2 separate regions of the Homo sapiens genome follow, and region 1 is linked to region 2. The links come from fine-mapping of genetic effects on gene expression. A gene starts in region 2. The other region holds a variant in brackets. All regions are shown on one strand. Distances are between the middles of the regions.

The links.
Region 1: its variant is fine-mapped to the expression of CLSTN2 in lung (TOPMed, PIP above 0.99).

Annotation. Positions count from the first base shown.
Region 1 is chr3:139,885,582-139,901,802 of GRCh38, forward strand. No RefSeq gene overlaps it. Among named protein-coding and RNA genes, the nearest start is that of CLSTN2, 41 kb to the right of the region's middle. The variant GTGGGGAAAC/G (reference allele first, on the strand shown) is at 8,242.
Region 2 is chr3:139,926,425-139,942,645 of GRCh38, forward strand. It overlaps CLSTN2 (calsyntenin 2), which reads left to right and starts at 8,761. Exons shown (of 17, transcript NM_022131.3): 1 at 8,761-9,059. The coding sequence starts at 8,951. RefSeq lists silencers at 8,759-8,808, 8,849-8,908.

The sequences.
Region 1 (16,221 bases), 41 kb before region 2:
CCATTAACATAAAGTGTGGCCACATGATTTGCTTTGATGCAATGTCAGTGGGGGTGATGTGTGCCAGCTTCAAATAAAGGTGTTAAGTGCCTTTACATAGTTCTGCTGTCTTTTCAATCTAGCACAACTATGATATGTCCTTGATATGGGCTGCTCCTTCACCCTGAGTTCAAGAATAATGAAGACACAGGAGTAGAGGCAAATCAAACCCATAGCCAAGGTGTATGCTCAGAGAGAAATTACTCTTTGTCTTTAGCCAATAAGATTTTTTTTAAGCAGCATGATCTAGCAAAAGCTGACTAATAAAGCTAGAGATTCAGGAAGCTGCAGCCTCAATTTCTGGACCCAAGATGCACTATGGTAGTCAGGATTTAAAGCAGCAAATAAGTGCCTTGCCCTTGACTCTTGGTATCCATGAAGCTAGGCACCAGTCACTGGGACTCCTAGGACAGCTCCCATGTAGCAGCCTCCATGACTGCAGCTGAGATGCCAGAAACAGTCAAGGCAAAATTCCTCCACACTTTGACTTCTGAATCTCTCAGGTACCTGTTTGGTAGAAACTAGGTCAAATGAGCAATCACAGGTCTAGGAGAGGCTGGAGATGTTGTCCTTAACACTCAGTAAGACATACTCCAACAAGATTAGATTGCAGGTGAGTGAGCTCGGCTTCAATATCTGCCACTCATATCACGAACTATCATTTAAGCTTTAGAAAGAATGAATTAACCTTCATCATTTAGGTTGTGGTCTCCAAATGGCATTTTATACTAGAAGACTGTCAAAGACTAGCAGACATGCCAAAAGAATATAGCAGTCAATCATAGGAGTTTCTGTTGGCTACAGTTGGGAAAACTTGAGTATTAAAATAATGATTGCAAAAAAAAATAAAATTTATCAAATATATACAAATAAGTTTTAGTGATACCCAAACAATGTTTGAAATAATGGATTTAGGCCCTTTAGTCCCAGTATCATTGAGTGAAAAGCTGTGGGAAAACTACAATAGATGGATAGGTTGACAGCACCTGAACCACCAATCCGTCTCCATATTACTGAAGGCGAAACAACCAGATGCAATGCAACAGGAAGCCAAAAGAGTTTAATCAAAATATCTAAATTGGGGATTAGATATTGGGCATAGTAGCTTACACTTGTAATCCCAGCATTTTGGGAGGCCAAGTTGGAAAGACTGATTGAAGCCAAGAGTTTGAGACCAGCCAGAACATCAAAGCTAGACTCCATCTCTACAAAATAAAAATGAAACAAACAAACAAACAAACAAAAAACAACTGGTGAGGGGGCCAGTGGTGTGCCGTTGTAGTGTCAGCTACTAGAGAGCCTGAGGTAGGCGGATCACTTATGCCCAGGTGTTCAAGGCTGTAGTGCGCTATGAATGCACCACAGCAATCCAGCTTGGGAGACAGAGCAACACCCCTTCTCAAAATAAATAAATAGATAGATGAGAGATAGATAGATGGATAGAATCAAGCCTCTAGCTCTAACTGCTAGTTTACAGGAAATACAGGAAATAGGTTACAAGTTAATTGACACCTTGAGGGTGTGGTTGGCTTACTTCAGACTGTAGTAAATTTTACTAAGCAAATGGACAGGTCTCTTCATGTGCGCGCACACACACACACACACACACACACACACACACACACACACAGTGCCTGTTTAAAAGGGGAGAAACGAAAACTATTATGACTTAAGACAAGTATCAATGAAATGTAACTTGAGGTCTTTAGAACCTGATTAAACACACCAGGTATAAAAAGAGACTTTTTCAGACAATAAGAAAATGCTAAACACACAGTATTACATGATATTAAGCAATTGTTCATTCTGTAAAGGATGATAGGTATTGTGATTATTTTTAAGCTCTTCATCTGTTAAAATACATAGTGAAATATTATAGTAAAATATTTATGGGTAAAATGCTATCATGTCTGAAATTCTCTATAAAATACTCCAGCCCCTACTAGAAAGAAGGAAGGAAGGAAGGAAGGAAGGAAGGAAGGAAGGAAATGAAGGTGTATTTGTTTTTCATTGTTGCTGTTGCAAATTATTAGAAACTGAGAAGCCTAAAAAAACACACATTTATTATCTTGCAGTTGTATGATTTGGAAGTCTGATGCTGGTCTCACTGGGCTAAAGTTAAAAGTGTTGGTGGGACTGTGTTCTTTCCTGAGGACATAGGAGATAATCCATGTCCTTACCTTTTCCAGCTTCCAGAGGCCATGGCTCATGGCCCTCTTTCTCCATTTTCAAAACCAGCAAGATGTGATTTCTTTAATCATCTTTCCATAGTTGCATGTTCTCTAATTACAGTGAGAAAAGATACTCTTATTTTAAGGATTCACAAAATTAGGTTGAGCCCACATGGACAATAAAGGATAATTTCTTCATCTCATGTTATTTAAATTTAAGCATATCTGCAAAGTCCCTTTGCTATGTAAGGTAACATATTCACAGAGAATTAGGATGTGGACATCTTTGAGGGGGCAATATTCTGCTTACCAGAGGAAGGACTAATGAAACAAGATTGGGAAAATATAAATATTGATCATTGTTGAAGCTGAGTGACGGATATGTGGGAGTTCATCATATGTTTCTCACTTCTTTTGTTTATGTATGAAACTTCCATAATGAAAACTCACAAAATATCATTGGGTGTTTTGTTAGTCCACTTTGCATTACTATAAAGGAATACCTGAGCCCAGATAATTTATAAAGAAAAGAGGTTTATTTTTCACAGTTCTGCAGGCTGGACAGGAAGTATGGCGCTGACATCTTCTCCTGGTAAGGCCCCAGGAAGCCTTAAATCATGGCAGATGGCAAAGGTGGAGCAGCCATGTCACATAGCGAGAGCAGGAGCCAGAGAGAGAAAGGATGAGATGCTAGGCTCCTTTAAACAACTAGCTCTCTTGTAAGCTAACAGAATGAGAACTCACTCATTACTATGGGGAGGGCAACAAGCCATTCATGAGGGATCCACACCCATGACCCAACACCTCACACTAGGCCCCACCTCCAACTTTGGGGATCACATTTCAACACAAGATTTGGAAGGGATGCACATCCTAAACCTTATCAAGTGCATTGCAGCTGACGATTTACACGATGAATTATAAAGTGGTAAAAGCAAACTTCAAAGAAGTACAAGTAATATAATCCCAGTTTAATAACACAGCAATGACTTAAATTCTTTATATTTGTTTGCTCCCCTCCCCTCCCCTCCCCCCTCCTCTCCTCTCTTCTCCTCTCCTCTCCCCTTCCTTCCTTCCCTCCCTTGCTTTCTTTTCTCTCTCTCTCCCTCCCTCCCTCCCTTCCTTCCTTCTTCCTTCCTTCCTTCCTTCCTTCCTTCCTTCCTTCCTTCCTTCCTTCCTTCCTTCCCTTCCTTCTTCATCATTTATCTACATATGATTAAATGAACCTTGAGAAAGGCAGGACAGAATATTTAGGTAAGCTGTTAATATATTGGCTATATAAGATGTGTCTATTGGAATAGGGGAGAGGTACACAAAAATCCAAACAGAGTTCAATAATTACTTGATTTTAAAAGTGAGCATATAAGCCAATTTATGTAAAGTTTATATATGAAAATCTATATTTGTATAGAGTCATGCACTGTATACATGTTGACTGAAATAACATTTCAGTCAACAATGAAGGTACATATATAATTGTAGTTCCATAAGATTATAATAAAACTAAAAAGTTTTTATCGCCTAGTGCAACACATTACTCACATATTTGTGGTGATGCTGATGTAAACAAATCTACTTTGCTGCCAGACATATAAAATTATAACATATATAATTATGAGTAGTACATAGTACTTAATGATAATAGATGACTATGTTACTGGTTTATGTACTTACTATACTATAATTTTTCATTATTTTAGAGTACATTTGTACATTTCTTCTACATATATGCACACACACATATAAACTGTGTGTATTTATGTATCCATCTACCTTTCTACTCTCTCTGTATATACATATTGACTGTAGAACAGCCTCAGGCAAGTTCTTCAGGGGGAATTCCAGAAGAAGGCTTTGTTACAGATGATGACAGCTTCATGTATATTATTACCCCTGAAGACCTTCTAGTGGAACAAGGTGTGTAGGTGGAACAAGATGTGGAGGTGGAAGACAGCACTATGGCTAATGTGTATGTTTGTGTCTTAGGTTTTAATAACATAGTCTAAAAAGTTAAAAAAAATAAGTAAAAATAAAAAGTATATAAAATACAAATATAAAACAATTTGTATAGCTGTGTACTGTGTTTGTCTTTTAAGCTACATGTTAATATAAAAGAGTTAAAAAGTTTATAAAGTGAAAATGTTACAGTAAGCTAAGATTAACTTATTGAAGAAAAAATATTTTTATGTAAATTTAGTATAGCCTAGTGCACTGTGTTTGTAAAGTGTACAGTAGTGTACAATACGAGGCCTTCACGTTCACTCACCACTCACTCACTCACTCACCCATAGCGACTTCCCATCCTGCAAGTTCCATTCATGATATGGGCCCTATTCAGGTGTACCATTTTTAAACTTTTACACCATATTTTTACTGTATCTTTTCCATGTTTAGATATGTACAGATACAGAAATACTTACCATTATGTTACAATTGCCGATAATATTCAGTACAGTAACATGCTGTACAGTTCTGTAGCCTAGGAGCAATAGGCTATGCCACATAGCTTAAGTGTGTAGTAGGTTATACCATATAGGGCTGTGTAAGTGCACTCTAATGTTCACACAATGACAAAATTGCCTAATGACACATTTGTTAGAATGCATTCCCATTGTTAAGCAATATGTGACTATATTTGTGTCATTTACATAGAGATACATGAATGGATACATGAATGGATGAAATCACCAGAATCTAGTTATCTCAGGGTAGAAAGTATTTGGGGTGATTTTTATTTTCCCCTTGCCATTTTCTATATTGCTTGAATTTTTTCAATAAACATACATTCTAAAAAATCATAACACAGACAATAAAGTGATTTTAATTGTGGAAAATAAAACATGAATGAATATTATGAATATTCCTTGTGTCATAGACTTCACCTCCACCCCCTGCTTCCTTCCTCTCTCACACCTCCTTAACAGAGGTAGAACTAAAATTCTACATACCATTGACACTGAAGATGATTCTGCATGGTTTAGAGGGAGAAAGTAGGGTCTAATATGCCAAACTTTACACGTTGTTAGAAGATATACAATAAAAATATATATTAAAAGTTTTGAGCAACCATTAAAAGAACAGAAATTGTAACTATCAAACCAACAAAAGGGGGAAAATGTGTATGTGTGTGTGTGTGTGTGTGCACAAAATAAAACCAGTGGAAAGAGGAAGTTTAGGAAAGAGAAAAAAATGATAAGTAAAACATGACAAACAAAGAATAAAAAAGTATATATTGGTAATCACATGTGTAAACATATTCAACTAACCATATTAAAGTACAGGGACTACCATGTTGACTAGAAATCAAATTGTTTTAAAATCCATTTCTTCACTGCTTATAAGAGTCACAACTAAAATTAATGTAGAAAGGTTAAAAGCATGAGCAGGCTCTTTGGTGCAATGGATAGCACATTGGACTTGTAGCCTAAATTGAAAAAGTAAATGATGGAAATAGCATATAAGACAAATGCTAGCCACAAGAAAGTTGTTCCATGAGATAAAATAGAATTTAAGGTGAAAAGCACTAAGACCTTGCATAAGTGGTATAATTCATTGAGATATATTAATTGTGACCTTATGCTACTAGTAACATGACCTAGAAATAGGATACAAGGTAAAAATGATAATCCCTAGTCCCAGTGGGAGGGTTTAATATAGAACCATCACAAACTGATGAATCAGGAAGACAAAAATTAGTCAAGGGCTTTAGGACCCATGAGTTCCACAAAAAATGGCACAGAAACAGAGCTGGGCAGGTAGAAGGAAGGAGGAGAAAAGTTTTGGGGGATGCCCATTTCCAGTCATCCTCAGGCACACGTCAGTGAAGATATAAACCTCAAATTTATTCTTTGCTCTGAGCTCATTCTCTTGGGTTTCAGAATCTGTTACCCTGCAGCCTAGAGAGATCAGCCAAGTCTTTAAGGCCAAATCAAAGCCAATTCAGACATTGGAATACAAATTGAGAAGAATTATTTGCTACTCACATACATTTTTTCAAGTATATGTAAGTTTTGGGCCAAGGAGAGGTGAAGGAATGTTTTATTCTGAAAATAAAGGATTGAAAAGAAACAACATTAATGTGAATGATGTTTACAGTGTGCTGTTAACAATCCTTGTGAGTGAAACTCAAATGCTAGAGTGATCACTCACTCTGAATTGCTCGCTTTGCAAAATGGTTTGCCACAGGGCACCCTTGAGTAATGAGTTCCTTGGTGCATTTTGTTTGGGGCACTTGTTTCCAAGGTGCAGCTGACAGCAGTTCTGGGGCCAGGAGTCCTTCACAGGAAGGAACGCCTAGCTTGGTACACTTTGCTTCTTATAGTTAGACTCCTGCAGCTGGGAATGGAACCACTGCCTTGGTGCAGTTGTACACCAGACTGCACATTCCAGGTGGCATTAGGGAGCTGGGGCCACTGGTGCTCCCAGTTCCCAGGGCCCACTCCTTAATTAAATGATGATGGGGTCATAAACCCACTGCTGGAGCATTCTTAGTAATGAAACTAGAAAGGATTATGGCTACGATGCCAGCCTTGTCCAGCAGTGCCAGACCAAGGGGATGGGGGTCTGAGAGTCTATTTAGAGTGGGAAAAACAAAACACTTCTGGAAAAGTCGTGAGCTCAAGAGAAATTCATCACAATGGGGAAAGCTGCACAGCTGGACACATTTCAATAACGTATAACTTGAGTGAATAACAGCTCACTGCAGAAAAATAAGAAAACATAGGCAAGCAAGAAGACAGAAAGTACCCCATTTGTCAGGTATGCCTGATAACCTGGCACTGTTTTTCTCCTGGAGGTGTTTTCCAATTTGAAATACCAAACAGAGGCTGAAAAGATAAATAGAGCTTTAATTATCTCATGAGGATGGATGTGGTAGACAAAAATATGAAGTGGAGCCCAACATCAGAGAGAGGCCTGGTAAACACCAAGCTTTCAACTAGGACTTTTAAAAGTTTGCAGCTTAGTAATACAGAAGCCTACTTGTGAATTATCTCAAAACCTGTCTGAATTTAAGCAAACTGTGCCCTTCCTAAATGCCTGATACAAGAAGACTAAATTCTTTTTGGAGAAATATAGCATTATCCAGTACCTTAAATGATTTCTTCAATTGTTCATATGCAATATCTGGCCTGCAACAACAATTGACAAGCATAGAAAAAAGAAAAAAATAAAATGACTCATGATCAAGATTTTAAAAAATTGGCAATATAAAAGGTCTGTAGGATATCCAGTTATTGGAGGCTTTAAACTATGATTCAGATTTTAGAAAATAAAAAAGAAGATAATTATAGTTGAGAACTGAAAACTACATATAAACTATATATAAAATGCATCAAATGGAAAAATTAATTACTCAATGACCTTTTAGATGCAGAACCTAGAATATCAATGCTTAACTCAAAGGAATGAATCCATGAGGACAGCATTTCAGGTGGTGCTGGAGGGAGAACAGCTCAGTCTGCTTTTACAAGACAGGGTGGGTTTTGTGGCCAGGTCAGAGTTCTTCCAGGACTCCTAATACCACCATTTAGTTGGAGTGATAATGAATAGTAGATGTGCTTTTAGCAGAAGGGCAATAAATTGTTTGATGAAAGATTTACTCTCATCCCCCCCCAAGGAATCTCTTCTCTTAATGGTCCTGTCAATAGTGTCTTTCAGGGAAGACATACAGTAAGTGGCACTTTTATGGAAGCTGATTGCCGAGCTCAGCCCTAAGAGCTAGATTCTGAGAGCTAGCTGGGATTAACAAGAGATGCATTATTACAATCCAGGGGAAAATCTCCTATTTGAGTTGTGTAAATGCGTTATATTTCTATAGCACTTTACCTCTTATTTATTTTTTGATAATCTAGTACATTTCTTGGAGAAAATGGGATAAAATTGCAGCAAGATAAATTTATGCCTATAATAAGGATGAATTTCTTATTGTGATGGTCATTAGGTTTAGGAAAGGGATTTTGCAAGGCAGTTGTGAAATCTCTGTCTCCTGAGGCTCATGAGAACAGACTCAGACACATTGGCTTATCTGGGG[GTGGGGAAAC/G]TGGCCAGTTTGGTTTTCATCTTTTCTGTAGCAAAAACAAAAAGGCTAGAGAACATTAACCCTAAAATCTTAGGGCCTACCCATTCTTCCTGCTGCTCCCAAGCCTGCTCAGTCCCATCAGGTTCTGGGATTTCCTCTCCCTGACCCGCACACCTACTTTCTATTCAAGGGCTACATTTTATCTTCATTGTTGTCCCCATTTGCCCCATGCTCCCTTCCCCACTTCTGTTTGGGAGCCACGGGTGATGTCATAGGGGACAGAAATGGGTTTGGGCTCAGACATCCAAACATTCATCCACATACACTGAAGGAGGGCTTGCCATGGGCTGGGCATTGTGTAGAGCACACTGGTTAGAGCAATGTTTTGCCTTCATTCTACCGTGGGAGACAAAAATAAACCAGCAAATAAAAATATGAATAACGTGCTGTCAGGTAGGGATAAGTGGTAGAAACAAAGCAGAGTAAGGCATTAAAAAATGACTGGGGCAGAAGATAGTGCATTAGAGGTAAGGCGGTCAGAAAGGCCTTTCTTAAGAGATAATATTGGAGCAGAGACCTGAGTGAAATAGTGCAGAAACCATGTGAAAATGGGGAGAAATACTAGTGCCAAGGCCCTGAGACTGGAATGTTCTCAGAGTGTTTAAGAAACAGAAAGGAGGTCAATATGGCTGAGCTGAAGGAGCCAGATGGAGCATGATCAGAGATGAGACTGGAAAGCTAGGCAGGGGCCAGGCCATATGGGGGCTTGTTGGACATGCAAGCATTTTGGATTTAATTCTCAGTGATGTGGGACTGAGACAGCTTTGAAAGATTTTGAGGTGGGAAGTGACATAATTTGATTTCTATTTCTAAGGGGCTGCTCTGGTTGCTGTGTGGAATAGATTGGTTGGGTATGGTGGGAGACAGGGGTCAGGGATGAGGCTATGGCAACAGGCCAGGTGAGAAGCGATATTGGCTTGGTCCAGGGCAGCAGCAGTCAAGTGATGACTCATTTTGATACTAAGTCTGAATTCTGGCACTGCCTCTTACAAACTGTGACCTTGGGCAAGTTGTTTAGTTTCTCTGAACTTCAATTTCTTCTTTTTAAAAAATTGAAGATGAATATATAATACTTTATGGCCATTTGGTGCACTGTGGGCCCTCACAAGGGTCTTCACAGCAAAACTTCTGTCTTCTAGATCATTGTCCTCCTTCCCCTGAAAGGGAGTTCCTACAACCAATTTTTAAGCCTTGGGTGCAGATTGTTGAGTTAGCCTCTTCAGTTTGTGGCTCATAATCATCGTTGGTCCATGCCTCTTTTGTTTTATTTACTTCCTTATTCTCCATTCTCTATTCCCATTTCCTTCTAGCTTCTGCCCTCAGTCAGTCATTCTAAAGTGTTTAATGTGTATCCTTCTATAAATGACATACTGTTGTTCTGTATACTTGTATTTTAAATTTACCTAAATGGTATTGTATCATATATATTTCATTATTTTTCTTATTTTACTGAGCTCTGTGTTTTCCAGATCCATCCTCATTGCCATGTACATAGTTGATTGGTTACTGCTAACTGTTATCTAGTACATACATTATGGTGAGCATCACAATTTAACTAGCTACTCTTCCAACCTCCTGCAACCTGAAAGTTCAACATCTGCATACTCGTGCCCCTTGAACCTGTGTGAGAATTACTTGGGGCATATGCCCCAGGAGCAGAGTAGCTGGGTCATAGGTATGTGTATACCTAACTTGATTAAGTACCACCAGACTGTTTTTCAGAATGGCTGTACCACATTCATCAGCAGCACAAGACAATTTCCATGCCCCTACTTTCCCTCCAGCATTTGGCATTATCCAGTTTTCCAATTTTACAAGACTAATAAGTTCTAAGCTCAGAACTTATTAGTTCTCTTTGTTATTTAATTAGCATTTCTCTGATTAAAAATGAGTTTGAGCATCTCTTCACATGTTTATTAGCCCTTTGAGTTTTTTTCTATAAAATGCTAAGTCATATCCTTTGAACATTTTAAATTCAGGGTTGCTATCTATTTTCCATTTGACTTGCAGAAGTTTCTTGTATATTATAAATAATACATTTTTTGTTGATATAAAATGCCACAAATATATTCTTCCATTCCGTCCATTCTGTCACCTATTAACACCTATTAACTCTTTCCATATATCTTACATTGAACTGAAAAATACAAAAATACTTTTGATATGATTAAATCCACCTGTTTTCTGCTATGTGTTTTGTGTTTTTGAAACTGCTTAGGAAGTGCTTTCCTACCTCTATGTCACAGTGATATTATGCTTTCTATATTTTATCCTAATCATTATAGACATTTATCTTACACATTTAGATCTTGTATCCATTTGGAATAAAATTATATCAAGTATCATTGGATACCTGATATTAAATATTAGGATATTGGAATAAAATGATATTAGGATCCTGCTTTATTTTTCTTGTGTTCCAGTTTTGCCAGCCCTGTTATTAAACAATATTTTCTTTGATTCACAGTGTCATTTTATCCTATAAGAAGCATGGTAATGGGTCTGTATTAGCCCTCTATTCTGTTCTTTTGGTTTGTATTTTGTTTGTAGAACAATATTAGACTGTTTTTATTACTGTGGCTTTATAGTATATTTTATTATCTGATAAAGCCTTCTTTATTCTTCTTAAGGTTGACTTATTTAACTATACATTTTTATTCTTCCATAGAAATTATTGAGGCACAACTTGCATACATCAAAGGTTATATATAATTTTCAGTGGGCGCAGTGGCTCATGCCTGTAATCCCAACACTTAGGAAGCCGAGGTGGGAGGATTGCTTGAACTCAAGAGTTTGAGGCCAACCTAGGCAACCTAGCAAGACTCTGTCTTGAAAAAAATGATATATATAATTTTCAAATTCTTAAGCTGAATACTTATGATCTTTCCATGTTTGTTATGTATAAGAGTATATCTCAATTTATATGGAAGAATAAAATTTTTTACTAAATTTTTAATTTTAAATGTTTGTGGGTTCATAGTAGGTGTATATATTTATGAGGTATATGAGATATTTTGATACAGGCATGTAATGTGTAGTAATCACAAGCACAGGTAACCAAAGCAAAAGTGGACAAATAGGATCACAACAACTTAAAAAAGCTTTTGCACAGCAAAGGAAACAATCAATAAAAAGAATAAAAATTTTTAATTAGCTGAGACAGTCTTAGGATGTAGAATATTTTTATCACCCCAGAAAATTTCCATGTGAACTTCTGTCAATCCCCCCCACACTATGATCATTTTGTTTACTACTACCATTGATTAGTTTTTCCTGAATAGAACCTCATGTAGATGGAATTAGACAGCCCATATTCTTTTAGATCTAGGTTTTATTTTTTAAGTTTCACCACTGTTATTGCAAGTATTTACATTTCATTCCTTTTTAGTGCTGAGTAGGTTTGTTTTTCCATTTACCTGTTGACAGACACTTGTAACCGCTCTGAATTTTTTGATGTTATATAAATGAACATTATAAACATTATTGTTGAACTCTTTTTGTGGTCACATGTTTCATTTGTCTTTGGTAAATACTTAGAATAAATATTGCTAGGTCTTAGGGTATAGACTTACATTTAACTTTATAAAACAATGCCAAACTAATTTTCAGAATCACTGTAGGCTAGGCATGGTAGCTCACACCTGTAATCCCAGCACTTTGGGAGGCCAAGGTGGTTGGAGCACCTGAGGTCGGGAGTTTGAGACAGCCTGGCCAGCACAGTGAGACACTGTCTCTATTAAAAATACAAAAATTAGCCGGGTGTGGTGGTGGGCACCTGTAATCCCAGGTACTTGGGAGGCTGAGGCAAGAGAATCACTTAAACTCAGAAGGCAGAGGTTGCAGTGAGTCAAGATCGTGCCATTGCACTCCAGCCTGGGTGACAGAGTGAGACTCTGTCTCAAAAAGCAAACAAGCAAAAAAAAAAAATCACTGTAGCAGTTTACATTTCACCAGCAATGTCTGAGAGTTGCAGTTGCTCCACATTCTCATCGACATTTGGTATTGTCAGTCTTTTAGATAAAAGCTATTCTAGTGGGTATGAAATGTATCTCGTTTTAATTTGCATTTCCCTGGTGACTAATGATGGTGAAAACTTTACCTGTGCTTATTGCGTAATCTTTCATGAAGTGACTCTTCAGTCTCTTCCCTATTTTTTCTTGGATTACTTATCTTTTCATTATTGACTTATAGACGTTCTCAGCACTCCCTCCTCACTTCAATGTGTTGAACACGAGTCTTTTGTCAAATAAATATATTGTGAATTTTTTTCCAATATATCTATTGGAAATTTAAAATTTTCCAATTTTCCATATTTTCCAATATGGCTTGCCTTTTCATTTTCTAAATGGTACCATTTTATCAGCAGAAAGTTTTAATTTTGTGGGAGCTTAATTTATCATTTTTATTTTATGGTTAGTTCTTTTTGAGTTATCATTAAGAAATCTTTACCTACCCATGGTCACAAAGACATTCTTGTATGTTTTATTTAAGAAAGTTTATGGTTCTAATATTTAAAGTTAGGTCTATAATCTCTCTGAAATTATTATTTTTTACATATGTTACTGAGCTAGATTTTAATTTTTTTTCCTCCACAGAGATATCAGTTGTTTAGCACATTCTGTTAAAAAGACTTTCCTTTCCTCACTGAATTACTTTGGTTCTTTGGTCAAAAATCTCTATATGTGTAGGCATATTTTGGGATTTTCTATTCTGTTTCATTGACCTACAGGTTTTTTTTAATGCTGATAACACATGGTCTTGATTACTGTAACTTTACAGTAGGTTTTGAAATCAGGTAGTGTAAGTCCTCCAACTTTGTTCTTATTTTTTCAGATTATTTTGAATATTCTAGATTCTTTACATTTCCATATACATTTTAGAATTAGACTTACCTTTTCAATTTATTTTTTAAAATACTTCTAAAATTTCAACTGGGATTGTACTAAATCTTTTGGTTAATTTAGAGAAAGTAGACAATTTTATCAGCTTTGAATAGTATAACCCACGAATATGATGCTATCTTTCCATTTTGTTCTTTAATTTCTCCCAGAAATATTTTATAATTTTCAGGGTAGAAGTCTTGCTTATCTTTTGTTACATTCATCTTAGGTATTTTTTTTTACTTTTAAAATTTCATTTTCTGTTTATTCATACTAATATATAAATATATAATAAATTTTTAAATGTTGATCTCATATCCTTTAACCTTAGTAAAGTCAATTACCAAATTTAGGTGATTCCATAGTATTTTCTACATATAAAATTATGGTATTTGTGAATAAAGACTGTTTTTATTCTTCCTTTTCAATTTTTGCACTTTTTTTTTTCTTGTCTTATTGCACTGAGTTAAGAGTTCTCGGACAATGTTGTAGAGAAGTGGTGAGAGAAGAAATCTTTGGAAACAGTTGTTCCCAATCTTAAGGTATTCAATGTTTTACTTTTTACATTCAAATGTGAACTTTTTACTGCATGCTTTTCACTGTTGCCTTATATTAGATCAAGGAAGTTCCCTTCTGTGGTAGGCAATATAATGGCTCCCGAAGACGTCCATGTCCTAATTTCAGAAGCCTAAAAATATGTTATGTTACTTGCCAAAGTGGAATTAAGATTACAGATGGAATTAAATTTGCTAATTGGCCTTAAAATAATAGATAATTCTAGATTACCTGGATAGGCCCAAAGTAATCACAAAGGTCCTTAAAAGTGGAAGAGGGAAGCAAAAGAAGAGAGTCAGATGGAGATGGAACTACTAGAAAAATGGCCAGAGAGATCCATTGTTGGTGGTGTTGAAGGTGGAGAAAGAGGGCTACGTGCCAAGAATGTAGATATCCTGTAAAAACTGGAAAATGCAAGAGAGCAAATTCTCCTGTTGTGCCTCTGGAAAGGCACACAGCCCTGCCAATGTCTTGATTTGAGTCCAGTGAAAACTGTTTAAGATTTCAAATTCTCAAAACTGTAAGATCATGTTTGTGTTGTTTAAGCCACTATATCTATGGTTGTTTGTTACAGCAGCAATAGGAAACTAATACACTTTCAAATTTGACTTTTCTTAGAGGTTGTTTTTTAAATAAATGAGTGCTTTGCTGTTTCCGCTCTTGACCATGCATCACACTGTCTTGATTGTCCTGTGTCTCATAATTTTTAAACTGTATTTCAGACACTGTGTTAAAATCACAGTAGAGACTGAGGTAAATAATTTTGTCCTCCAGGAAAAGGCATGATTGATTCTTCTTTTCTCAGGCTGCTTAGTGTAGGGGATGAGTTAATCTAAAGTCTAGTTCAACTGGGCCCAGAGATTTCTTGAACTTTTAATTTGTTTCAATTCCCACTGGCTTCAAATATTTTGAGGGTAGAATCAAGACTTCCCCTTCAGTAGGGTTGGGGATCCAGGGATCCAGGGCTCTGAGTATCTCTTTATACTTTACAGCTTAACTACCAGCTTTCTGAGCCATGTTAGCTCTTTTGCTGTGAGGAGTTCACTCTGATTTCTGTCCCCACCCTGTCTTTCTACACCCCAGGAAATCTCTCTCTGCCTTGTTCCCCTGCTCCAGTTTTCAGAGGGCCACCTCAATGTACCTGTTGAGGTTCGTGATGTCTTTGAACTTTTCAAGAGGTTTTCAGCTCTCCAGCCTGTCCTCAACTGATGGCAGCTACTTTTTATGAAGGCCAGCATGCCCCAGAGGAAATCTTTTTAGTTCTCCTGTTTCATGTAAATTATAAAGTACATTTATCAAGTCCCTTTAACACTCCAGCTGGAAAATTAATTGGACTTACATTGAATTTATAAACTAATTTGGGGAGAATTCACATTCTTGTGATATTAACTGGCCCATTCATGACTTTGGAATGGGTCTCCATTTATTCAGATCATCATACATACATATATTTTTATTTGTTATAACTTTAAATTTTACTCACTGTAGGCATTTTTATTCTTACATATTTTGTGTTTTTTGTAGCTATTGTGAATGGTATCTTTTTAGAAATTATATTTGCCAGTTATTATACACTAGATTATTACTAGTGTAAAGAAATGATACTAATTTTTGAAATTGCTCTTCAATCCAGTAACTTCAGCAAGTTCTTGTATTTTGTTTGATTCTGCTGTTGTTTCTTGGTAGATGTTTATAACATTTCCAAATACTGAGTGTTTTATTTTCCAAGTATTTTACCTCTTTTTTTTCCCACTGCTGGCCTGGACTTGAGTGCTCTGTTGATCAGTGGCAGACAATCATTTTTATACCACCTGATGCTTCCCAGCCCCATTTCATGTCTTCCTGGCCACAGCTGTATTGAACTAAAAATGAGCACCTGATGTAAGCTGGGCTAATCAGATCCTCTCCCCCAGGAATTTGGGGTTGGAATTCAGAATTGGTGGGCAGCCTCTCTCCGGCAGGTGAATTAAAGGATATTGTAAATGTTGAACGGAAGCAGCCATGTTTGGTCACTTGCACACAAAAACAGAGAGAGAGAGGAGGAAGCAAGGAAAAAGAAGGCAGTTTAAGAGAGTGCAGAGAGAGAGAGAACAGGCAGACAAAAGGACACACAGAGACAGACACACAGATAATTATAAAGACATATGGAGAGATATACCATGAAGAGGCAAGGTCAGGGAGGCACACCCTACACATGCAGCCACACTTTTAGAGAAAGAGATGGACACACAGAAAGAAAGGCAGACAGGAATGGAGAAAAATGCAGAGACAGACACAGCAGGTAGAGAGAGAGAGAGACAGACAGACAGACTGGAGTCCCAGACTCAGAGAAGCCATATGAGACCATCAAAGATACAGAGGCAGAGAAGCTGCTTCCACTCCTGGGGTCTGCATGGCTTGTTGGCTGCAGCTCCTTGGGAGGACTGTCTATAATTTCTGCCCACAGGTTTGGTGAGATTCCTCTGAATCCTCATAACAAATCTGATTTTACATAAGC
Region 2 (16,221 bases):
ATTAAATCAATCTCTAGACCAGTTTTAAGGAAATGTATTTAGAATGGATTTTAGTAGTCTGCTTTAAGAGTATTCATCCCTGAATCCTAAAGTCAAAAAATAGCTGGATATCTTTTACCATAAAGTCAGCCTCCAATATTCAGTTACTTATAGACTAAAGCAGGAATGAAGCCACACTTTGCCCTTTAGGCATGGCATTGGGTGTTTAAGGTCCTTCAATTCCCCCACGGGCAAATACATACCGTTTATCATGTGCCATCCACTCTACACCACTTTTTGGCATTCCCAGATGTTATAGAACATTGTATGAAGATGATATAATATATCCTGTCCCCTTTGGACACATGATTCATGACACATAACCACGCCAACCTGGAAAAAAATTTCTTAAATACTGAGAAATGAAAGACATAAAACTTTAAAATTACTTAGGTGAAATGATTTCCTTGGAGCAGTCTAGCAAGTCAGCTTGTCGATCTTAGACTAGAAGGCTCTGAAGAGCAGGCATAGGCTGCTTTTTGAGTTGGGAAAGCAAATGAACGTTTAACCCTTCTCTTCTCTTTCATAGGGATCTCTCCATTGGGGTGTTTGTGTGGAAGGCATTTCCTGACTCCTAGCTCAGTCAGCTCCAGGCATTTTAAGCACTGGTGTTTGTGCACTCTACTTATTGACTCTGACTATGTACCAAGACATGATATAGAAAAAGAGTTCTGAACCAGGACTCAAGAAAACTAGAATCTAGCCCAGGCTGTGTGAGCTTAAGCCAGTGATGTAACCTCTCTTTGCATCCATTTCCTTATGTATAAAACGAAAACAGTATCTGTACTACTCACCCTTTAAAATGCTTTCTTACTTAACACCACCCTCCCACCCATGAGTATGAATTTTGCAGTATCATGCTCAAGCTACATGAAAATATAAGTTCTAGATTTTTATAAGAAGAATATACATTTAAGTGATTTTTCAATAGGATGTTTATGTCAATAGTCAAAAAAGAGGGATGCAGGACAAAACGTGCTCTGCTCAGAGAAGGTAAACCATTCATTCATGCATTCATTCATTCACTCAGTAAATAACTATCTAGCACCCATGTGTCAGGCACATGAGTCTCGCCTCTCCTGCAATTTAGGTTCTATTGGGAGGAGGCTGGAAATAAATGAGCAAGTAAACTTTCAAGAAAATATCAGCAAGGAGTGATTACAGAGAATTAAAAAAGAAACGCTATATAGAGTAATGGAATGACTTCCCTGGAGAAGTGACATTTAAAATGAAACCTGAATGCCATGTGATGTAAGAGGGAAGTACAATCCCAGTTTAAAGCAAAGGCAGGAAAGAGCTGGTTATGTTCAAAGGACCAAAGGCCAGTAGGCAAGGTGGGAGAGGTCAGAGAAGCAGGCAGGAATAATCAAGTTGGGCTTTGTGAGTTAGACTAAAATGGTTTAATTTTTTTTTTTTTATTTTAAGAGTGATGAGAAGCCTCTTGAAGACTTTAAGATAAGCAAGTGCTTGGGGAGGTAGAAAAAATATTTATTTTGGAAGTAAGACTGAGAAGGTTATTTGGGGAGAAAGAGGAAGAGACTGTAGGTAGGTGTATTAGTGTGGAGGGCTGCATAACAAAATACCACAGACTGTGTGGCTTAATAACTTATTTTCTGACAATTTTGGAGGTGGGAAGTTCAAGATCAAGGTGTTGGCAGGGTTGGTTTCTTCTTAGGCCTCTCTCCTGGGCTGGTAGATGGCTGTCTTTTCTCTGTCTTCACATTATATTTCCAAATCTCCTCTTCTTAGAAGGAAAGGCACCAGTCATATTAAATTAAGGCCCACCTTAATAACCTCACTTTAACTTAATTACCACTTTAAAGGCCATATCTTCAAATACAGTCATATTCTGAATCATATTCTGAGGTACCAGTGGTTAGACCTTCAACACAAGACTTTTTGAGAAACACAATTCAGCCCCACTACAGTAGAGGGTCTAGCGTGAGCAAAGGTGTAGAAGCAGGATTGGTGTGGTCCCTATTGAAAAACAGTGGAGTCCCCAGACTGGCTGGAGCAGAGTTTACATAAAATGGAGTCACAGGAAATCAGGTTATCAATGGAAGTTGAGGCCAGGCTGGTGAGGGACTTGAATTTTTGTTAAGCAACTTTGGCCTTCTGCAGTAAGTCTTGATGAGTCTTGGAAAGTATCTGAGCAGTGTAGGAGAGCTAGGTATTGATGATCAAACCACTGGTTATGTGAAAGCCTTGCAGGAGAGGATGGAGTCAGGAGACAGCCTGAGGTGTGGAGCTTGAGTCAGGCCCTTAGGGACAGAAAGGAAATAAAAGAGAAAGGAACATCTCTAGGGAAGATCTCCAGTACCAACTGAGACAGTGGGGAAACAGGATTCCAACCTGGGAAACTTCAGAGAATCACTGAAAGACAACGACTTCTGTGTAAAACCTGGGATTATGGCCAGAATGAGTCAGGGTAGTGCATTTGGTCTCTGTACAAACCCTGCACCTACAGCTGTGGTGGAGGCTGGACACATTGCCTCACTTGGCTGGAAAAACATGGCTTCAGAGTCAGACAGGACCCAGACAATTCAAATTCCAGCTTCTTCATTTTTAGCAGTGCACCTTAATTTCTTTGAGCAAGTTGCTGAATCTCTTTGAAACTTAATCTCCCTAGATGTCCAATGGAAATGATAAATCACCTTTCTAGACTTTTGGAGGGTTGAAGTAATATGTGCAGTGTCTGGCTCATCGTAGGTGCTCAATAAGTGGTAGGTTCCTTCTCATCTCCCTTAGTGGAACAAAGCCCTGGAATGACACAGAGCAGATAGATTTAGGTACTTGAGACACATCTGAATTGCTCTGGCAGGGCACGTGGGCTGGTGCTTCCTGTGGCAGGATTGGCAAAGGTGCTGGTGGGGCTGGAGCTTCTGTGGTGTCATGTGTGTCCATATCTGTCCACGTTTTACCTGCATAGAAAACACCAAATACTGGATCAAGTCAGGCAAAAGGCTATCCACAACCTGTGTGGCCCTGGGTGAGTGTCCATTGTAACTATCAATGGCCCTATTTACTGTATCCCTACCATCTGGCATGGAAAGAATTCAGCAGTTTACAGTTCATTTTACTCTGAAAACAACCTGCTTCATTAGTCTAAGTTTATAGATGAGGAAACTGAGGTTCAGAGTAAGTAGCTTTCTCGAGTCAGACATCATTAGAAAACAGGAAAGCTAGGTTTGCAACTTAGGTCTGTCTGATTCTAGAAATCATTTTCTTTCCACTAAGCTCTACTTATTCCTTGCCTTGGCTTCTACAAGTCTCAACATCTGAGCTACAAAATAGGACTAATTACACATGACTTGCCTCGAAATATAATATTTATCTTTTCCCAGCCTTTGTTGTAGGGAACAAATGAAAATAAATATGTTCTATTTCCTCTAGATGTATTATAAATGACACCAAAACTTAGTGGTATAAACAACCATTTGATTACATTCATGGATTCTATGGGTCAGGAATTTGGGCAGGGCATAGTGGGAAGAATTATTTGGAACTTTCAGGATAACTCAAATGTTGGACTCAGCTGGGGCTGTAAACTACTTATATACAGCCTTTCTGCATGGCCTGTGATCCTTAAAACATGGCGGCCTTAGCGTAGTTAGAATTCTTACATGGAGGCTCCAGCCTCCATATGTGAGCATCCTAGCAAGCAAGGCAAATGCTGCATCACCATTATTATCTAGTCTGGGAAGTCACACAGCATCACTGCTGGTGCAGTCTACTGATAGAAACAATGCTCAGATTCAAGGCTGTTTGGATTCAAGGAGAAGAGATATAGATTCCATCTCTCAATGGAGGAAGAGCCACAGAATTTTATGGCTGCTTAAAAAAACAAACAAGCAAAACACCACAGGGCATAAAATTCCAAGGAAAGTATACATAAGTGTACTGGAATAATGCCTTGCTATTATTAATGATATCTTTGTTTTCAGCCAGGGCACTCCACCTTGCCAAGCATAAAACACTCATGTCCAAACAATGCTGAACTGGATTTGGTTGTGAACAAGCTTTTTTTTTTTTTTTTAACTTTTTCCTGAAGAGAAATGCCTAAACTTTTTTTAAAAGAAGTTCCTTTGGCAGCAACAGCGTAAAAACTTCCAAGAACAATGTTAAAAAATCTGCAAACTGTCCAGTTGTTCAAGCGTCATGAAGCCCCAGTTTTACCTGTCAAGATGGGAAAAAAGAATGACAAATGACTCTAGTTCTGTAAAGATCAGCTTTTCAACCTTTCTTTTAAAGTTAAGTACTTTTAGTTGAATTAAATCTGGGTCATGGAGAAAGCCTCAGTTTAATTTTCTTTTTAAAAATAAGTTTCCATAAGTATATATAATTTATTTATTTTCTTTGATTACCCAGCTTAAATTATTTAGGGCCTGTGTTTTGGTGCTTAATTGGGCAACGCATTAATGATCCTGGTGAAATGAGAGGAAATGGCTATGTTTATATGGGGCCTATGCCAGTTAGATTCTATTTTCTGGAATAGGGGAGTTATTTATTTATTAAGAACTATTGACCCAGATAAATTACCTGAGATTCATTATTACACTGCCAGGTGGTGCCCCAGACTTGAGGCTTAGAGTGACCAAGCTTTACATCATCCTGTTCACCATTTTTTTTTTTTGAGATGGAGTCTTGCTCTGTCACCCAGGCTGCAGTGCAGTGGCATGATCTCGGCTCACAGCAATCTCTGCCTCCCAGGTTCAAGCGAGTCTCCTGCCTCAGCTTCCCGAGTAGCTGGGACTACAGGCACGCACCACCACACCTGACTAATTTTTGTATTTTTAGTAGAGATGGGGTTTCACCATGTTGGCCAGGCTGGTCTTGAACTCCTGACCTCGTGATCCGCCCGCCTCGGCCTCCCAAAGTGCTGGGATTACAGGCATGAGCCACCGCGCCCGGCCCTGTTCACCATTTTTTGAATAAAATCTTTAGAGGAATATGCCACAATACTAAGTCCAGAATAAGTAATGGATATTCAGAGATTTGTATCTCTACTTTGGTGACAGTTGGCTATTTAAATTGGTCCTTAATCAGAGGTAGTGATAGATAAAGGTTTTTTAAAAATCAAATCCCCAAAGCTATCTTTTCTGATTTGAAACTATTTTTTGTTGCTTACTTATCCCGCATGCCTCTCCCAAAGTCATGATGTGTGGGAGAAAGATGAAATTTGGAATTAAGCAGACATGAATTGATATTCTGCACAATTATGCAAATATGGATAAGTTGCTCAAACTTTCTGAGCCAGTAATCTGATTATGATTAAATAGGGAAAATAGCACAATTGTCTTAGTCAATTTTCTGTTGCTTATAACAGAATACCTGAAACTAGGTAATTTATAAAGAAAACAAATTTATTTCTTAAAATTATGGAGGCTGAGAGGCCTGAGGTTGAGAGTCCAAATCTGGTGAGGTCCTTCTTGTTCATGTGGATTCTGTAGAGGTGGCAAAGGGCATCACATCATGTAATAGCTCAGGTCTCTCTACTTCTTGTTATAAAACTACCAGTCCCATTCCCATGATAACCCATTGATCTATTGACACATTAATATATTAATCTATGCACAGATTAATCTATTCATGAGAGCAGAGCCATCATGAACCAGCCCCCTGCCAAATGTCTCACCTCTCAATACTGCCACATTGAGGATTAAGCTTCAACATGAGTTTTGGAGGGGACACATATTCAAACCACAGCACACTTGTTGCAAAGATTAAAGAAGGTGTAGGTGTGGAATGTATATCCTCCATTGTAAAGCCTGGCATGGAAAGAATGAGGACTCATTAACTGTTAGGTTGCTTTACCCCATCTTTTGCATCTGCAATGGCCCAGCAGAAGCAGACAGCACAGTAGTGCTCCATACAAATGATGTGGACTTAAAAGCTCTTATGTCTGAGTATTTCTAAGGCTGAACTTACTTACTTTTATCTCCTCTAAGGCAGGTCATTGTTGCCTGTTCCCCAAATGAATCAAATCAAATGTGTGACTGGCACACTTGTTTTCAGAGATATAGGAAGTAGGATAAGGGGAAGACATTTTTACATTTATTGAACATTGACTATGTGCAACATACTGTTTAACATATTTTTAAAATTTACTTCTTGTAATGATCTTATGAAGTAGGCATAATGCTGCTCAATCAATTGCTCCAGAACATAATGAATTAATGCAAAAACCACTTATTGTATCTCATAAGTCAGCTGGATAGTTCTGATGTGAGCCAGGCTTGGCTGATCTTGGTTGAGCTTACCTGGGCTTGCTCATGTGTCTGTGGTTAGCCAGCCTGTAGGCCAGTTGGTTCTGACCAGCCTAGTGTGACCTTGGCTGTCTGAAACAGCTCAGTTCTACTCCATGCAGTCTCCTACCCTTCTGCAGGTTAGCTTAGGCTTGTTCTCATGTCAGCAGCAGGGATTCAAGGCAGGAAGAAGCAACATGCATGCCACTGTCCCACTGACCAAAGCAAATCATATGGCCTAGCTCAGAGTTGGGGTGGGAGGGCACATCCAAAGGAAACAGATTCAGAGAAGCATGGACAAATGGCCATTAGTGCACTTGATCTACCACAATAGGCATTGTTATTACCCTCATTGGTAGAGGAGGAGATGGAGGCTAGCAATTTTGTGCCTGTTGGTAACTGGCCCACCCCCTAGTGTTTTTCTTTGCTGTGTTCTTTCCTGGCTATCTCTCCATGGAGATGCTTCCTAATAAGCTACATTTCCCCCTGTTTCTCATTATTTGGTCTGAATTTGAAACTTCACATAAAATTATTAGGACCAATCAGTGATCTTAACAAAGCCCAGTATAATGACATCAAAGAACAGTGCAGGTAAGTCAGTAAGATAGGTCTACTTATTAGAGAAAATGAAGGGAGGAGGGCAGATATGTAGTTGGGTGGAGCATAAATGGAAGAAAATGAGACAAATTTACATTTCTCTTCTATTTTCTGGCTTTTTTATTTTCCCTGGGTCAGCTACCACCTTTCCATGCCATCTTTTCTAGATTCTGAAACCAACATCTGACAAAGGCAAGGTCCTGGTGTCGGCCTGGGACATTTACTAGATTTTTGACCCTGAACAAGGAAGTTACCTAACTTCCCTGAGCCTCTATTTCATCATGTGTGAAATGAGAATAATAGCGCACATGTTGATTTGTGGGCTAAAGGAGACCTGAAGGTAAAGAGCCCCACATGGGTCTGAGCCCCATGCAGCCACCATGATTCACTGCTGTCCCCAAGCACATCCTGGTGCCTGAAATCCTGAAGAGTTGGCTTTCACCACTGCAGAGGCTCTGAGTGAGCTGCCAGGGCAGCAGAGGGAGGCTGAGCTGCAGGAGTGCTGTTAATGGATTTTATGGCTTTGTTGAGTACCTCAAACTACAGTTATTAATTAGAGGATGCTGTTTAGGCACTCTTGCAATATATACATTTTGTTAATTGATTTGTATAGGCTCATAGCTAGCAACATAAAGAATGTGCAGGACCATAACACTTACAAGGGATTGTAATTGCCTTTGCTGCCCTCTCTGGCTCCCCAAGCAGGGAACAAAAGCTTTGAGGATAGGACCCACTCTCTCCTCTGTCTTTGGATCTCCAACGACTAATCCAGTGCTCACTGTCAGGGTGATACAGCCTGTCTAGATGCTCAGCAAACGTCTTGAATCAATGACTAAATAAATAATATTGTTTGTTTCTGTATTTCCATATCTACTTTATTTCCAAACTATTCCTCATAAACCCTGCATTGTGTGTGATGTTGGCATTTCATTTAGGTAAATATGGTCAAGGATTTATTCTGAGTCCTTACTGTTTTTTTTTTTTTTTTTTTTGAGTACCTTTGTAATTTTTTCACGGCCTAGAGATGGTTGAGGATGCAAAGATATGCACTGGCTCCTGCACTCAGGGAACTGACAATACTCAACGGCACGAGATTTTACAATGCATGACGTCAAGTAGCCTGTTCTTAGAGATGCGGAGTGACAACATAAAGGTGGCAACTTCTTGCATGGCACCATACCGCAGGGAATTTTAAGTTTGACACCCCGCCCCCGCCACTGCAGCCTCAGCAGGCCCAGCACCCCAAGTTTTCTGATCTAGCTGTTCTATCAGCCTCTAAGAGCCGCGGCTGCCCCTGCTTCTCGGAGATGACGCGGAGCCCTGCCATTGCCATCCAGGTCCAAGGCTATCTACTCTGCCCGACAACCCCTAGCACCACTAGGCGCTGCTCTAGTGTGCGCCTGGCGCCCTCCCCAGACCAGTCGACGCAGAACGCCCAGAGACCCAGCCAAGGGCAAGACCCTTAGCGACGCCCGTCAGTCCTCTCCGCCCAGATATCAGTTCAAAGGGCATGGCAGGTCAGGGTCCCTCGCGCCACCCCAGATGACCCTCAGGCCTCGGGTGGCCACTTTCTGGGGGAGCCCTCCATCCCTTGCGGCAGCTTTTCCGAGAGTCGGAGTGGAGGCGCGGGGCTGGAGGGCTCTCCGGAGCCGCCCACCAGGGTCCTCTGGGGGCCCGGTCCCGACTGGGCAGGGGGACCTGGACAGGGCCCCGGAGCGTGGAGACGGCTGAGGAAAGTTGGGGGTCGGGGCCTTGGGGCGGGGAGCGCGGAACCCGGCGCCGATGCCCGCGTTCATGAATATGCACGAGCCACCTCCCTCCCTCCGTGACGTCACGGGCCGTCCCGGGGTGAGCGCCTGAGCCGCTCCGGGTCCGCGCCAGTGAGCGCGGCTGCTGCCGGCGAGCTAGCGGCGCAGCGGCGGGAACCCGAGGCCGAGCGCCGCGGCGGCAGCGCTAGAAGCGCACCCATCGGGCACGGCGAGGCGGCCCACGGTGCGGCAGGCACCGGGAGGCGAGAGCCGGCGCGGACAGTAGGCGGCGGCTGCAGCTCGTTGGCGGCTGCTGCGAGGATGCTGCCTGGGCGGCTGTGCTGGGTGCCGCTCCTGCTGGCGCTGGGCGTGGGGAGCGGCAGCGGCGGTGGCGGGGACAGCCGGCAGCGCCGCCTCCTCGCGGCTAAAGGTGGGTGCTGGGGAAGTTTGCTCTTCTCCCAGGAGGGAGGCAGGGCAGGCTTGAGGGTGAAAGCGGCAAGGACCTAGGCTCAAGCTGGATTTGCCCACCCTCCCTTGCCGCAGCTTCTTTGGCCTCTGTGCGCCCTGGATTCCCGAAGTCAGTTCCCTGCGCAGCGGACCAGAGAGGTCCACCCGCGGACGTCAACTCAACCCCTGGGCGGGGTCCGGGGGCTGAGCAGAAGGCGAGGTCTGGGGAGTACGGACAACTTTGAGGGCTGTCTGTGCCGGGGTGGGAGCGCAGTGGGTGAGTTTCGAGCTCTGGCCCAGGGACGGCTAGAGCAGGGCGCTGGCGCGCCGTGGGGACAAGCAGGTGTCTGCTCCTGCCTGGGGGAAGGATCAGCGGCGGTGCTTTCAAGGAGGGAGCCGAGCTGTGACTTGTCTCCCAGCTCGGGGATGGAGTGGAAACTTGTAGGCTCCAGGGAAGGCCCCGCTGACACTCCTCAAGCTCCCCCAGGGCGTCTCTGACTCCCCGGGGAACGTGTACCCTCCGGGTAGGCGGCGGGGTCCGGAAGAAGCGCGGGATGTGAGGCTCCCCGCTGCCTTTCCTACTCCGCTCTGACTACCGAGGACCGAGGAGCCTAACCTGGCACCACTCCCCTGCCCACCCTGTTCCTTTGAAGAGCTTGACCTCCCCGCGCCTCCCGCCCGGAAGGAAGCTAGATCCAAGCGAACGCCTGGCTCTGTCAGGCGAGCCTGGAAGCCGGCGAACCCCGGACTTTGACAGCTGCCTGGGAGCGTCGGGAGCTCTGGGGTGGGGGGCCGGGTCTGAAACAGGAGGTCACGTGCTTGCAGGGGGTGGGGAGGCGAGGGAAGAGCAGAGCTGGTGGGGAACAGTGGTGGGCTCAGGGGAGGCTGTGGCAGATCCTAGCTGGGGCGCACAGCTTAGTGATAACTTGTTGATTCTCTGCGCTGTTCATAAGTAGGGCTTGCGTTTGGTTTGTGGACTGTGGCCAAATCCGCCAGGTGACAATGAGGGGTACTTGGTCCCCAAATCCTGCCTGGCAATCATCAGAGGGCGGAGGGGTTTGCGCCTGTCAGAAAATAGATTCCCTGTTAGAGACAGCCTGATTCGGACGCTTGCTTTGAGCTACACTTGACCACTAGCTTAGGGGAGGAAATGCCTATCAGGCTGCATTACTCTTGGAGGTTGGGGAGAGCTGGAGGCAGGCAGTTCGCCTTGTCTGGGCTTTAGAAACTGGCCCTCCAATAACTTAGGAGTGATATATTTGAGAAGAACATGGGAGATTATGTTTATCTGTAATTTTTAAATTTTTTGGTGTCATCGTTTTGAAAATATTTTATAAGCAGGCATTCTGTTTCTTTTCAGCATTTTTTTTCTTGGTGTATCTTTGACAGGCAGTTTCTATTTTTAGAAATGAGAAATTTCATGAGAGAAAAACTCGTTATGAAAATATCTCAGAGTGCGGTAAAGAAGTGGCTGATATGAAGGGATCAAGCTGAGAGACTGTTGTTTTGGTGAAGACAAGAATAAAAAACAATGAACTTCCAAACATCTCCCCCCTGCTTTCCCAATATAGACACTTTGTTAAACAGGCAAATTACTTTTTTGGGGGGTGGGGGGGAGGAGATTTCCCATCACTTTGTAGCACAGTAATTGATATAAGCAGATGTCTGCAAACGGGAGTTTGAAGGAGGGTGAGAAGCACACAGCAAGTGCAGAACAGGGAAGAAATCATTTGGGAAGAGGATCTGGTGTGAGTAGTAATAATGCACGGCTGAGTTCTCAGGTCAGAATGGGAAGCTTCATAGAGGTAAGCGAGAAAGAGAAGGAGAGAGATAAAAAAGGAAAATAAAAACCCCAGGCTTTCAATGATTCACTTTATGTGGATAATTATGTGCATTTTAACCAACATCCGACTTAGAACATATTCATTTTTTGGTTAAAACTAGGCATTTGTCAGGTCGGGCATGGTGGCTCATGCCTGTAATCCCAGCACTTTGGGAGGCCGAGGCGGGCGGATCACCTGAGGTTAGGGGTTCGAGACCAGCCTGACCAACATGGAGAAACCCCGTCTCTACTAAAAAAAAAAAAAAAAAAAATTAGATGGGTGTGGTGACACGCACCTGTAATCCCAGCTACTCGGGAGGCTGAGGCAGGAGAATCACTTGAACCCGGGAGGCAGAGGTTTCAATGAGCCGAGATCGCGCTATTACACTCCAGCCTGGGCAACAAGAATGAAACTCCGTCTCAAAAACAAACAAACAAACAAACAAACTAGACATTTGTTTTTCCAGGGTAAAAAGTTTATTGGCCCTGCAGATTGAGAGTTAACTGTCCGAATTCCCCTTGTTCTCGCTTCTTTCCCCTTCCAACCACTGGGGGGCTGCAAAGAGCTCTGTTTGCTGCTGATTTTTTTTTCAAGATAAATGTGTAATATTTGATTACAACAGAGACATTTATTATGACACTTTAGTTAGTATTTACAGGACTGACTTTCCTTATAACAATGCACTTGCATTTTATGTTTCCAAATCATATGATCTCTGAAGAATGTTTGAAATGATAAAGCTGTATGTTTTGTGTATAATGCACCCTGCCTCTGACTTTGCCATTTTTAAGGTTCATACCATTGTTATTCCCATCACAAAAAAAAAAAAAAAAAAATCAGGAAGGCGTGTGAAGATTGAACAAAAAACCAGATACTTCTTTCGTACAATTCTGTATTCATGTGTAGAAAAACACTGGGAGTCTGGAGTCAAGCTTTCTGACAGAGTTGAATGCACCCTCCAAACAACTGTCTGGAAGCATGTGCTCCCAGCTTCAGTCTTGTGTAAGATGTTGTGTCTGTGGTGCACAGCTTGTTCTGCCTTTGTGCTTCTTGCTTCTTGCTTCTTGCTTTAGGGACTCGAGCAGTTAATCCCGGACAACTACCTGGGGTTTTCACAGAATCACTGTACTTTCAGTGTAGACATATTTCCAATTTCAGAAATCACACAGTGGCCAGGCAATTATAACTCCTTCCCTTCACCCTTACATATTTTGGCTATTCAAAAAAGATAAATACTTCTTGGATTCCATGAAGAGACCAGATCACATGCTCATGTTCTATGAGTAAAGCTGGTAAGGTGTTGTGGACCCAAAGAGTTTCTGGAGGCAGAGAAAGACATGTCTTATCCAAGGGAAGGAAGACAATGCAATCTAGACAACACCTCAAAGTTTGTGCTAAATTTGGCAAAATGTCAGTGGTCCCAAGACCTCAAGGACTTGGTACACAGTCCTTCTTAAGTTCCCAACATCTAGGCATAGAGGTCATTTGGAACAATACTCAAGTATAGACCATCAATTGTTGTAGTGCCCGCCTTGTGTGCTAAGAGCCTTGCTCAGTGCTCTGGTTCTGAGCCAGTAGCAGAGGACCACCCTCCACCCCTCCCACCCCTACCTTTCTTTTTTTTTTAATTTTTATTATTATTATACTTTAAGTTTTAGGGTTGAGGAGCTTCTGTTTTAGTTGGAGAGACAAGATTTTTATGTGAAAATTTTAAGAGAGTGGCAGCGGAGAGAATTTGTCCAAAGTATAGTATTGACTGTGATAGAGACACAGGCAAAGGAGATGGGAGTGCAGAGACAAAGTTTACAAAAGCAGCATGTGGTAATAGGTAAGGAGGAGGATGGAGCAGAATTATAACAACAGTATGGTGTAATTGTAGTAATTTCAGTGTATGGAGTCCCTCTTTAGTATGTCACAGGCACTGTTGCTAATCCCATTACATGGGCAATCTCTAACTCTTACAACACATGCAGAGCCAGTGTTAGCCCATTTCACAGATGAAGAAACAAATTCTATGAGAGGGTAAATGAACTTGCCAAGACCTCCAGCTAGAGGGTGTGGCACTGGGATGAGAATATAAAGGTCACTATACCCAGTGCCCCCTATTTGTCAGATAGTCTTCCCAGTGGTTTTGAAAGCAGGTCTAGGGACCACAAGGAAGCTGAGCTGTTTGCATCTTTGAGTTACCCAGGAGCCCTTGTGGTCCTGCCCACAGAAGAGCACAGTATGAGTGTCTAAGGCTGTTTAAAAGGGCATGCAGGTGAGGTGAGGGAAACGGACCTTGCTCTCACCATGGAAACCAATGTTCTCGCTTAGAGCAGTCACCTCATTCTCTCTCCCACAGATTCAAAAACCATCCTTGAATATTCCAGATTGCACACTGCAGAACTTCCTGCAGGGGCAAAGGTAGTGTGGAATTTTTATGGTGGATTGTTCTAAGTCATCTTTGGGTAAGTAGCAGGTGTCTTCTAGTGGTATAACAGAGTCATTTTTCCAACTGAAGCACAAATGCCAAAAAGCCCTCAGCAATGCATCAGAAAGTGTACTCTGACCTGCTGCCATCCTGAAACGCCTGTGGTTCTTGGACCGGAATGTGCCCTTTACCTCTCTTGGATTCTCTGGGCATCAAGCTAGTAGGTCACCTTCCTCAGCCCAATTTTCACTGTTACTCAAGATTTGGCCTTCCATAAGGAACCTTCCCAGGCTGGTTACTTCTGAGTGACTTGCCTCTCTTTCCTGCATGCCTGTGTTTCCTTGTCTGACTCTAGTCCTCAGGGCTCAAAGACCAGTGCTAGAGGCTCATTCTGACTCTCCTGGTATCTCCAGAGCCTTGCCTCAAGATATGAGATGAGCAGTATGCAGTGATTTGCTTGGTGAACACACCTGTTTGTAATCCCTAGTGCTGTCATTTCTTGACATAGACAATTTATGTGTTTTTCCTTCTCCTCTATAAAGTAAAATTTGGGCATATGGCCAGAAAAACTTGAGTTCCAAACCTGGCCCTACTGCTTCCTAGTTAGATGATCTTGGACAAGTTAGTTAACCCATCTGAGACTCAGTTTCCTCATCTCTAAAATGGGGATACAGAGATCTACCTTGTAAAATAGTTGTCAGGGCACTTAGCCCAGTTTGGGGCATGTAAAATGCACTAAATATACAATGACTAATTATTGATCACTTGAACAGTTAGTTTAGTGTCTGAGATTTGGTGAATTTTTTTTTTTCTGATCTCTTAGAAATCCAATAGCTTTGTTCATATCTTTTCTCAGCTCAAACTGTTATCCGTTCCTCTGTTTCTCAGTCTCTCTCTGCCTCTCTCTCCTTGTGTGGATATGCACCTGTGTGTAAATATCATATATAAATGTAAATGCACATGCATACACACGCATTTGGCTTGACTTGTTTGTAAAAAGACATGCTTTTTTTCACTAGTCTATGGATGTCTTTGAAGCCAGAGCTCCATCTCATTCATCTCAAAGGCCCTGGCACTTAGTGCAGGGCCAGCTCAGAGTAAAGGTCAGCAATATTTGCTATCTAAGTAAATAAACAAGCCTGTCTCCATGTGCTAGTGCCAGAGGTGTGGGAGGTTCTGGTCTCTGGAGGGAGAGCTTATGTGGTGTGATCTGGGTTGTAAGGAAAGATCTCCTGCCCAGTTCATACTTTCCTCCAAGCCCTGCTACCTGAGAAAACAGAAAGGCATACTTTTTTGTTTAAGGTATTGACAAGTTTTGTGATAATACATGTTTATATGGAATGGGGTAACTGAAGCTATGATATTCAAATAACAGCTTGAAATCGATGATTGTTTTATTAGCTGTTATCTAACCCATGACTAATTGGACCCTGTGGAAATGGTTCCCTGGGAAAGACAGGTTTTGAGGGTAGACCATGGGGAGGCCTGAGCTGGGGAAGAGCACTGAGCTGAAGATCCTGGCACTGTGTAGGACAGAGGATCATGCTCTGAGATTTGGGAAAGAAACAAGCAGTAGGCCAGAGGGAGTATTGGTCAGAGGAGAATGGTTAGAATGAGAGTTAGCCCTTCCAGACATGCACTAGGTCCTGTTCTCTAGCCTTTTCAGCCAATTACTATTTCTCAGCCTCCTGTTATTCTCTGTGAGGGGAACAAAAAGATAAAAGCAAGTTCCAATTATCAAAGAGTTCACACTCTGTCTAGGGCAAACACTGCACATCACACATCACACAAACTATTGCAGAACTTGGTGACTTATGGGAAAATCATAGATTGTGCATCACAGACCCCCCGAAGCCTTGCAGGAAAGGAAGAAGTTGGCAACAATAGAGGTCAGGAAAGACTTATGGAGAAAGTAAAAGGGATGTTGATGGGTGGGTAGGCATTGGGTAAGCATATGTCAGGGGCAGGGGTTTGCACTGGACAGGTAAATACAAGGTGGTAAGAGTGATTGGCACACAGGCACGAGTGAAGAGGGAGCTCAGCCAGGTCAAATATTATTTCTGCATCAGATTCCAGAGCTAATAAAACAGTGAATGTTTATTGAGTTCATACTATGTGCCAAGCACTATCTTGAAGCACTTCACATATGTCGGTTGGTTTGATCCTCGTACCAACCCTATGAAGGAGGTAAATCTACAATCTTATTTTTACAGAGGAGTAAACTGAGTCACTGAGAAGTGAGGTAACTTGCCCAAAGTCTCAGAGCTCAGAGGTGGTAAAACTGGGGTTACAAACTCAGAATACACTGGTAGGCATGGGTTCCCCTCTTCACACAGGCTTACCTATTCAGAATGATGTGATGTCTGCTTGAGGAAGGCTCTGAGTGAGGTCAGAGAGGCTCTGCTGCCCTGGAAGGCATTGCCTTGCTGTCCAAGAATATTTGCTTGGATTTTACTTCAAAATTGCTGAAAGAATCGGTTTCCCTGAAAGCCTCACTCTCTGACTCACTTCTCCAAGTGAGCAATACCTGTTTCTTCTCATCCAGACAGCTTGAAGCCCTCCTCACCTCCTGTCATGCTTGGCCTCAAGCAGAGGAGGCAGCCTTCTGCACTGTATAGTCCCAGATGTGTTTGGAGGGGTCTCCTGCACCAGAAAGACTATCCCAGCTGGCTGGCCTTTGTACCGACAGTTCTCCTGATTCGGTTATTCATTTGGGTTAAATATTGCCCTCTTCTGACTCCGTTTTAGGCCAGGATACATACTTTTAAACATATTAGGTGGCTAGATAACAAAGTGGATAAGAAGGGGATGTTGAGAGGTGTGCATGGCAAGGGCGGGAGGAGATCATATAGGAATAGCAGATAACCAGACTGTTGATCGGGCTGCCTTTTCTTCCACTCTCACGGCAG